3 linked regions of the Homo sapiens genome follow. The protein of the gene in region 1 purifies or fractionates together with the protein of each later gene. This does not show direct contact. Each region holds a gene or a part of one and is shown in the gene's direction. Other genes may lie near its edges. The genes, in order: RIPOR1, MYO7A and APPL2.

The links.
Region 2: the proteins of RIPOR1 (region 1) and MYO7A purify together in Homo sapiens (affinity purification with mass spectrometry, with the first as the bait; one large-scale study listed by BioGRID). This does not show direct contact.
Region 3: the proteins of RIPOR1 (region 1) and APPL2 fractionate together in Homo sapiens (co-fractionation; one large-scale study listed by BioGRID). This does not show direct contact.

What each region holds. Positions count from the first base shown.
Region 1 is NC_000016.10:67,527,312-67,531,064, forward strand, and holds the start of RIPOR1 (rho family-interacting cell polarization regulator 1), read left to right. Parts: upstream 1-1,517; 5' UTR 1,518-1,603; exon of another isoform or gene 1,604-2,511; coding exon of another isoform or gene 2,512-2,548; exon of another isoform or gene 2,549-2,776; intron 2,777-3,289; exon of another isoform or gene 3,290-3,753. UniProt on the Homo sapiens protein: Downstream effector protein for Rho-type small GTPases that plays a role in cell polarity and directional migration.
Region 2 is NC_000011.10:77,134,593-77,138,245, forward strand, and holds part of MYO7A (unconventional myosin-VIIa), read left to right. Parts: intron 1-3,620; exon of another isoform or gene 3,621-3,653. UniProt on the Homo sapiens protein: Myosins are actin-based motor molecules with ATPase activity. Unconventional myosins serve in intracellular movements. Their highly divergent tails bind to membranous compartments, which are then moved relative to actin filaments.
Region 3 is NC_000012.12:105,172,787-105,175,127, reverse strand, and holds the end of APPL2 (DCC-interacting protein 13-beta), read left to right. Parts: intron 1-679; coding exon 680-814; 3' UTR 815-1,828; downstream 1,829-2,341. UniProt on the Homo sapiens protein: Multifunctional adapter protein that binds to various membrane receptors, nuclear factors and signaling proteins to regulate many processes, such as cell proliferation, immune response, endosomal trafficking and cell metabolism.

The sequences.
Region 1 (3,753 bases):
AAGGCGGAGGTTGCAGTGAGCCGAGATCACGCCACTATACTCCAGCCTGGGCAACAGAGGGAGACTCCGTCCCCCAAAAAAAAACAAAAAAGAAAGAAAGAAAAGGGCACTACAAAGGAAGCCCAAGAGGAGGGGCTGGAGAGTGGAGAACTGTGAGGCAGAGGTGGCTCAAGCCTGTAATCCCAGTACTTTGGGAGGCCAAGGTGGGAGGATCGCTTGAGCCCAGTTAGAGACCAGTCTGAGCAACATGAAGAAAGCCCATCTCTAAAAAACCGACCAAACAGGCTGGGCGCGGTGGCTCATGCCTGTAATCCCAGCACTTTGGGAGGCCAAGGCGGGCAGATCACGAGGTCAGGAGATCGAGACCATCCTGGCTAACATGGTGAAACCCCATCTCTACCAAAAATACAAAAAATTAGCCGGGCGTGGTGTGGGCGCCTGTAGTCCCAGCTACTCGGGAGGCTGAGGCAGGAGAATGGCATGAACCTGGGAGGTGGAGCTTGCACTGCATTCCAGCCTGGGCGACAGTGACACTCTGTCTCAAAAAAAAAAAAAAAAAACCCGACCAAACAAAACCAAGCAAACAAGCAAAACACACAAAAAAACAGCCCTCAGGACTGGTGGGGGCGGGGTACAGATATTCAGGGACCTCTTACTGTCCCTGAAACCATTCCTGGGTAGGTCTGACATACATGAGGGCTGCGGGAGTGCAAGGCCTGGAGAAGCCTCAGGGGTGTCCAGGTTGGAAGGGCCAGGGGTGTCTGATTGATGGGAGGAGCGGGGGAGTGGAACTGGCCCTTTGACCCCAACATGGGGTCGACTCTCAGCCCCACCTTTACCGACTGTGTGGAGGGCCAGCATTCTAGCCCCGGCTTTGGAAAGGACTGGGTTGCCCAACACATGGCCCTGTACCCGGACCCTGCCAGCGTCCCCACCCCAAGACTGCCCGAAAACCAGTACCCAATGAGTGGGGAATGCATGACCCGGCTATGAGCCTGGACTTACCAGCCAGACAGTGGCAGAAAGGGCGGCCTGCCTCTACAGCGACGCTGAGGCTGGCTGAAATGGCAGGGCTGAAGGGCAGCGTCTGGACCCAGAAGGTGCCAGGCGGCTTCTGGACTCCCCAAGGCCTTCACAACAGCCCTGGATCCTTTCCACCAACCAGCCTAAGCCAGCAGTAGCAGCTCCAGGACCTGTTTCAGGTGGTCACGGACAGGGGGCCCGCAAGGTCTCCAGAGCCCGAGGGATCTGGGGAGGGGACAAGCAGGCGGGGCTCCCTGGCGCTCACCGTTTTAGGGTCTGCGTGAGAAAGCCTCCCTCACATCCCCCAGGGTCTGCCCTCCCTGCAAGCTGGTGGGCTGCGTGGGCCACCGGCCTGCCCCGTTATCCGAGAGGGCGGAGCGAGCCGTGGGCGCCTCTAGGGGTGCGGGAGCCGCGGGAGCGCAGGGGGTGGGGCCCGGCGGGCCAGGGGAGGGGCGGCGGGGCGGCGGGCGGAGGGAGGGGCCGGCGCCTGCGGCGGCGACAGCGGCAGCTGCGGCGCGACCAGGCCGGGCACCTCCGAGCGCAAGGACAGCGCGAGGTCCGCGCAGCCCAGCGCAGCCATGTGAGTGTCCCGCGCCGTTTCCGGGGCTGCAGGCCGGGCGGGGAGCAGGCGCGGAGGTTCTGGTGCCCCCCCGCCGGCGCCGCCCGGTGGGTCCGGGATCTGCGGCTCTGTCCCGCCTCACCCCATCTCCCGGACCCCGGCCGCGCCTTGTCTTTCCTCCCCTCCCCCCGGGCGTGGAGAACGCAGCTTCTCCCACAAAAGCCGCCGCCTCCGGGCCTGCAGAGCCTGGCGCTGCTGCCTTCCTCCCACGGCAAGGCCCTGGCGGCCGGTGCCCCGGGGCGCTGGGATGGGCCAGGCCAGAGAGCGGGCTCAAGGCGCCAGCCTGGGCCCTGGCACGCGCGCTCCCTGGGAGCCCTTGCTGCCTTCGCCGCAGGGGAGGCTGGGCTGGAAATGGGGAGGGGGCGACGAAGGGTGCGGGCCGGCCTAGGAGCTGAGCTAATCCTCCTAGCTCTAGGGGCCGGCCTAAGCGGCTTTGTGGCCGGCCCCGAGGTGACCGAGCCTGGGCTGGAGCCGGGCTCTCCGCCCAAACCTGGCGTAGCCGAAGCCGGAGAGGATCGTCCTTGTCGGGGAACGGAGCTTTTCCCTGGAAATGGAGGTTGGCGCAAGGTTCCTGCAACAGCCGGGCCTGGGCTCTCTGCAGAACTGGTTTGGGCAAGGGGCTGCTCACCAGGGCTAGAGGTCGGATTCAGTCCAGATTCAGCACCCTTTGTCCTCCTCTCCAGGGTGAGCCCTGAGTCCGGCCTCCCCTACAGACCCTCCCCAGCCAGTTCTAACGTGTGTCCAGGCTGGCCGCCCCAGCACCTACTGTGCGCAGCCTCGTGTAACAATACTTGTGCCCTGGCTGCAGTCTGCGGGGCCGCGCCCTGGGCCTGCCGCATTCGGCCAACGCACAGCATCTGAGGAGGGTTATGACCATCTGGCAGATGCAGAAACAGGCCCAGAGAGGTTAGTAGTATTCTCAAGGTCACACAGCTGGTTTGGGAGAAGCGAGGATTAGATCTGAGTCCTTGCCCCTGCGACACCCACCTCCGTGGTATTGGAGGGAGGAGAGGAATGATAATTGGGGGCTGAGGTACAAAATACTCCAGCGGGACAAGGAGGACTGGCATAGCTCCTTCTTCCACCGCCCTCTCCGGCTTGGGTCCTGTGACTGCGGCGGGAGAGAGGAGCAAGGTGAGCCGCCCCAGGGGTCTGGGTTTGGGTGCGGGTGAGGGGAGGACTCAGGACTCTGGGCTGGGTCCCGCTTGAGAGAAGCGGGCGGGGAGGGCGCGGGTGAGTCACGGCGGCCCCTCTGCGTCGCCGCTCGGACTCAGCCCTGGCCAGGCCCGGCCCGGGGGAGGCCGCCTGGCTCCCAGCGCGCGGCCAGGGAATGTAACCAGCTGACCAGGGAGGGGGCCGGCAGGAAGTGAGGCCACCCGACAGCCTCCGCCCGGTTCCGGGGTGGGGGGTCCGGGGCTGTGCCGCTCCCCCTCCCTCCTATACGCTTGGGCAGCTGCGAGATGACGTCAGCCGCCGGGTTTGGGGGCAGTTGCCATGGAGACAAGGACAGGCTCAGAAGGGACCCCCTTCTCCCTTGCAGCCGCCCCTTGCCCAGGTTATTTTTAGCCTCTGTTTACCTCGGTCGGGGCGGCCCCGGGGTGGGGCGGGGCTAGACCCGGGGACTCCCAGAGAGGCAGCTGGCCTGGCACAGTGCTGAGATGGGCAGCCCAGGTGGTGGGATATTCCGCCGCACCCGGGTGTGCCAGTCTTGGTGTGTAGGAAGTATAGCGGGGCTGCAAGATCTGGGGCCATGCGGACAGGTCAGGGCTCCTCCACTCACGGCCATCCTGACCTGGCTGTGCTGCAAGCCCCATAACCTTTGGAACCTTGGATCTGGGTTATTTCCCATCCTGGGAACAGACTATAGGGCTGACATGAGCCCAGAGAGTCCCCTGGTTCTTATCAGCCAGTCCCCCACCAGTTGAGGTGGCCCTTCTGCCTTAGCTCAAGGGGTTCAGCTCTTTCCCTACCTGCTCTCACCCAGCAAGGGCAATCTTGCCCGCCCATCTCCCGAAGCGGTCACTCAGATGGACATTATGATGGTCATTTGTACCAACAGTTAGACATCCTAGTTCCTATGGGACTCGGGGGATGGTGGCAGCAGAGGGCCA
Region 2 (3,653 bases), on another chromosome or scaffold:
AAGTGGCTGGGAGTACAGGCGCCTATCACTGTGCCTGGTTAAATATGACTTTTCTATTTATCTATGTAAGTGCCCTTACCAGTGTTCTTTAATTTTTTTGTATGGCTTTGCATCACTGTCTACTGTACTCTATTTTTTTTTCCAATTTTGTATTTTTTAAAATACATATAACAACATATACCACTTAACTTTTTTTTTTTTTTTTTTTGAGACAGAGTCTCACTCTGTCACCCAGGCTGGAGTGCAGTGGTGTGATTTCAGCTCACTCTGCAACTTCTGCCTCCCAGGTTTAAGTGATTCTCCTGCCTCAGCCTCCTGAGTACCTGGGATTACAGGTCCCTGCCACCATGCCCAGCTAATTTCTGTATTTTTAGTAGAGATGGGGTTTCACCATGTTGGCCAGGCTGGTCTTGAACCCCTGACCTCAGGTGATCTGCCCGCCTCAGCCTCCCAAAGTGCTGGAGTTACAGGAGTGAGCCCCATGGCTGGCCCCATTTAACCACTTTAAGTACATAGTTCAGTGGCATTAAATACATTCACAATGTTGTGTGACCATCACCACTATCAATTTCTGCAATTCTTTTCATCTTGTAAAATAAAGATTCTATCCATTAAACAATAACTCCCCATTCCCCTCTCCCCACCACCCTTGGCAACCACCATTCTGCTTTCTGGTTTTGATTTGACTATTCTAGGTGCCTCACATAAGTGGAATCATACACTATTTGTCTTTTTGTGATGGCTTACTTCACTTAGCATAATATCCTCAAGGTTCATCCATGTTGTATTAATAGCATGTGTCAGAATTTCCTTCCGTCTTAAGGCTGAGTAACGTTTTATTGTATGTTTATACCACATATTGTTTATTCATTCATCTATTGAGGAACACTTGGGTTGCTTCCATGTTTTAGCTATTATAATTAATACTGCTTTGAACATAGGTGTGCAAAGACCTCTTTGAGATTCTGCTTTTAATTCTTTTGAGTATATATCCAGAAGTAGAATTGCTGGGTCATATGGTAATTCTCATTTTAATTTTTTTAGGAACTGCCATAGTGTTTTTCACAACATTTGTATTATTTCACATTCCCACCAGCAGTGCATAAGGGTTCCATTTTCTCCACATCTTTACCAATACTTATTTTCTGTTTTGTTTTGTTTTGTTTTGTTTTGTAATAGCCATCCTAATGGGTGTGCAGTGGTATCTCATTGTGGTTTTGATTTGCATTATCCTAATGATGAATGATGTTGAGCATCTTTTCATGTGCCTTTGGTCGCTTTGTATATCTTTTTTGGAGAAATGTCTATTTCAGTCCTATGCCTATGTTTGTTTGTTTGTTTTGGAGACACAGTCTCACTCTGTCACCCAGGCTGGTGTACAGTAGTGCCATCAAACTCCTGCCTATGCCCACTTTTGAAATGGGTTGTTTGTTTTGTTGTTGTTCAATGTCTTTTAATCTTTAGCATTTCTTATAGGGCAGGTCAACTAGTGACAAACTCTCTCAGCTTTTGTTTACGTGGGAATGTCTTCATTTCTCCTTCCTTTGTGAGGGATAGTTATGCCAGATATAGAATTCTTTCTTGACAGTTTTTTTATTCTTTCATCATTTTAAATATGCCATCCTACTGCCCTCTGGCCGCCGTGGTTTCTGATGAGAAATCAGCCGAGACTCATACTAACGATTCGTTGTATAGAATGAGTCACCTCTCTGTTGCTGCTTTCAAGAGTCTCTGTCTTTGCCACTTGTGGAGAAGAGGCCTATTCCTCCAGCTCAAGGGTGGTCTCAGTAGTCGTTCTGGAACCAGGCAAGGTCAGGTTCTTAGCACCTTGCAGGGTCTCCCCCAGGGGACCTCTCTTTAGCCACCAGCCGCCAGACTTACTTTACAATCTCTTCCCTCTCTCCTCTGATTCTCTGAGTTTGCTGTTCCCTCTTCCTGGGATGCCCTTTCCCCTAATGTCTGCCTAAAAAAAAAATCTTAAAACCCAGCTGTCACCCCTAACACGACTCCCTTAGTTAACCATGGCTGGCACTCATATACATTTGGTCTAACAGGCACCAATCTAGGTGCATTACGCATCTTAACCTGTTAAATCCTCACGAGCACGTGGAAGCAGTGTCATTTTGTCACCTGACGGATGAGGAAAGAAAGGAACATAGAGGTTGAGGAACTTGCCCAAGGTAACACAGCTTGTGAGTGGCTGAGCTGGGATTGAAACTAAGCCATCTGACTCCAGGGTCCAAACTCTTAGTGGCCATGCTATCCTATGTCTCCGGGACTGATCTGCCTCTTATCTGGTGGTACCATCCTTATCTGTGCCTGGGTCTGTCCACCACACCAGGCTGGGAGCTCTGAGGACATGTCTTGTTAACAGTGTCCTCTGTACTTTAGTCTGAACCTGTACTCAGTGAAGGTCGGTTATATGAACTCGTGGTAGAATGCCTGGAAGCTCACCACCAGCACTTCCTTGTGTCTGAGGTCTGGGTCCTGTCCCAATGTACTGCTATAGATGGGCGGGGAGAGATAGGTGTGCCTGTTTTCGGCTTGACTGGGGGAAGGACCTCTCCTGAGAGCGGTGTCCCTGAGAGGTCACAGGAAGTGAGTGGGAATCACTGATCAGTCAGCTTCGTGCTGGACAGCAGAGCCCTGGGTTCCCAAGGCTGGGACAGGGAGTGGGGTAGAACTGGGCCCATCCTGGGTGGCTCTGAGCCCTGTGTGAGGCATCACCGTCTTTTTCGTTGCCATTCCCCCCACCCAGTCCCCCGCCCCCACTCTCTGCCGTTGTTCATTCGTTGGGGAGCAGTTGGCTTCCAGGATACTAGGCAATGCAGAGAGCCACAAATGCAGACTGGAGGCCTTGAAAAGAGAAGAGGAAGAAAAAGGAGGAAAGAGGGGAGGAGGACAAAGATAGGCAGGGCAAGGCGAGAAGGAGGGAATGGGAGAGGAGTCACAGGGCCTGGGCCTTCCGGACCCTCGGGATGGGACGGTGGCCTCTGGCTCACAGCCCAGCGTGGACCGACGCCTGGTGTCCAGCCCTGTGTGGCTGCTAGGACACAGGAGGCCAGCTTGGCCCATTGCAGGGAGAGCTCTGAGCCATCGAGGTGGTTCAGCTGTCCTGGGGAGTTCAGGGGACCCCACACCAGGCCTCCAAGGCCTCTTCTGCAGGATGGACGTGGGCTGCTATTTGACCTCGGGGGCTGCGGGAGGAGGACATAGCCTCTTCAGGGGCTTTCCCCCAAACTTACCCCAGAAGGAAACTGTATCTGCCCTCACTCCCCAGAGGCAGCCAGGGAGCCAGAAATATCTTCAATGCATCTCTCCTTTAGTCTTAAAAACCCCGGGAGTTTACCGCGTTCTAGTCCATAACATCCTCGTGTTTCCTTCCATGGAAAACATAGAAAAAAACATGACGATTTTTTCCAAAACTGCCGTCAGGTGCGGTGCCAGGTGCCACGTTTATCCCGGGCCTACCGCCGCGGTGCCAGTGAAGCCGCCTGGGATTCCGGGCAAAGTGGGGCTGTGGGGGGTTCGGCCGAGACGGAGGGGGCCGGGGTGGCGCGGGCGCCCCCTCGCCGTCCCGCCCGCGGGCGTCACCTAAGCCGCCGTTGCCATGGGCCCGCAGCAGATGGCCCGGTTTAGGGTTCCGGGGCGGG
Region 3 (2,341 bases), on another chromosome or scaffold:
AGGATCACCTGAGGTCAGGAGTTCAAGACCAGCCTGGCCAACATGGTGAAACCCCATCTCTACTAAAAATACAAAAATTAGCCGGGTGTGGTGGTGCACACCTGTAGTCCCAGCTACTCGGGAGACTGAGGCACAAGAATCGTTTGAACCGGGGAGGCGAAGGTTGCAGTGAGCTGAGATCATACCACTGCTCTCCAGCCTGGGCGATAGAGCGAGACTCTGTCTCCAACCGCCGCACCACCCCCCCCCCCACCAAAAAAAAGCAGCAGCAGCATGGACAGTATGTAAATAAATGGCCGCAGCTGTTTTCCAATAAAAATCAAATGGTTAGCCAAATGACCATAGTTTGCCAACTTCTGGTATAGATTAAACGTGAGAAAAGAAGGAGTTTAAAGATAGAGAAGACAAAAGTTCTGTGAAGGAAGTTCCTCTGTGGAATCTTTGGGAAGATGATACGAATTGACTACGTAAACAATATTTTGGCTCAGAGGAAAACAGTCTAGATTCTAGAAGTGACATGCCTGAGTTTGAGAAGCAAGGAGACTCAGCGGAAGGCACATATACACAAGAGTCAGGAGAAACAAGACTAGATTACAGAACATATTGAAAGCCAGGCCAAAGGGGTTTAAATGCATCTTAAGCCTTTTCTTTTTTCCCTTTTAAACTCTCCTAACTTCAGGATCCAGAAGCACTGGCTCAATTAATGCTGTCCATACCACTAACCAATGACGGAAAATATGTACTGTTAAACGATCAACCAGATGACGATGATGGAAATCCAAACGAACATAGAGGCGCAGAATCCGAAGCATAACTCACTTGCGCCTGTGGGGGAAGAGCAAACAGGAAGGAGAGCTACCTCCTAAGGGTTTTAACGTCTCTGACATACAGGCACACTGACCTGATTTCCGAAGGCTGACAATCGTTTGTGGAATGTAATCTTGATGCCTTGATACTGAGACTTGGGAGGGAAACTAAGAAATGGTTGACAGCGTTCCCACCCATCTACAATGTTATTTTAGGTGCTTTGTGGTAAGTCTTTTTTCTTAGATTGCGCTAAAATTTCTTAGATTGTTCAGCGCTCAGAACAAAAGTTTGAAAAATGCATTGTTCATATGAATGTCATCTCTTTTCAGTTTCCAGTATCCTTTTTAAAAAATGGCAAAAGCCTAGATTTACAATTTGATGAACACTAAATATTTCTTATTAATATAATCTATTTTTGTATTTTACTTAATGAGCTTTAAGTGCCTGTCGTTCTGAAAATTGTGTATTTATAATTCAGCTTATCTCATAATTGGACCTAATAGCATTTCTTTGTGCAGTTAGGTGATGAGCACTGCTTTGAGGCCCAAGCACTAGTAGAGATGCGCGATACAGGTCTAGTTTCGGTAACTGTTCCAGACATCAAGCAATAAAAAAATGAATACCACAAAAGATGTTTGATTTTACAGTGGAGCCTTACTGAACCAGCATTCAGAAGTTTAAGGTCCTCCTAGGTATGAGTATTTTTAGTAGTGGATCACTGTGGACAGGGTGCAGCTCTACCAGTTCCTGTTTCTTCTGAGCCAGACCCTCTTCAGGGAAGGGACCAATTAATTTTAAAACTCACTTGAAGCACAGCTGGTCATGGGGCTTGGTATAAAGTTCCTATTTCCACCCTGATACTTCCAATTCCTGGAACCCCAGCCCACTCCCCCATCCCTCCTCCCTATCAAACTAGTATAATGATTTTGAATCGGTACAGTGTGTTTAACTGTAACTAAGTTCAACAGACTATTATTATCTTTGTAATAAATTAACCTAGCAATAAAAAATATTCTGTTTCTTTCGTTAGATGTGGTTATTTTCTAGAACATCCCTGGAAGAAAACTAAAGTCAGCTCTATAGCTTTAACATTCAATTTCCCAAAAACTAGGGCATAATGAAATCACAGAAGAGGGGATATAGTATCAAAAAATACTTCCAGTCAACATGAGTAGAATATGTGATCCCATTGCTAAAAGTTTTAAAGGTGTTGCTTTTAAAATGGTGGATAAAACAACTTTTGTAATCCAAAATTAGGTTAATATAGGATCCATTTGAAATGTATACACCATAAAAGAAATAGTGAGCCAGTCTAAGCCAGTATGAGATTATGCACTGTAAAATTAATTCATTGTTCACTAATGCCTTACAAATTTGTATGACATAACTGCTTTAGATCAATTGGTTCTCTGACAGACTGCAAGAACCACAGTCCCCTGAACTTTTTTTTTCTTGCTTAGACTTTTTTGGGAGAGGGGTAGAATCTGAAGTCCTAAACAATTATTAGTTTGAAAAGTGAAACACTATACATTTC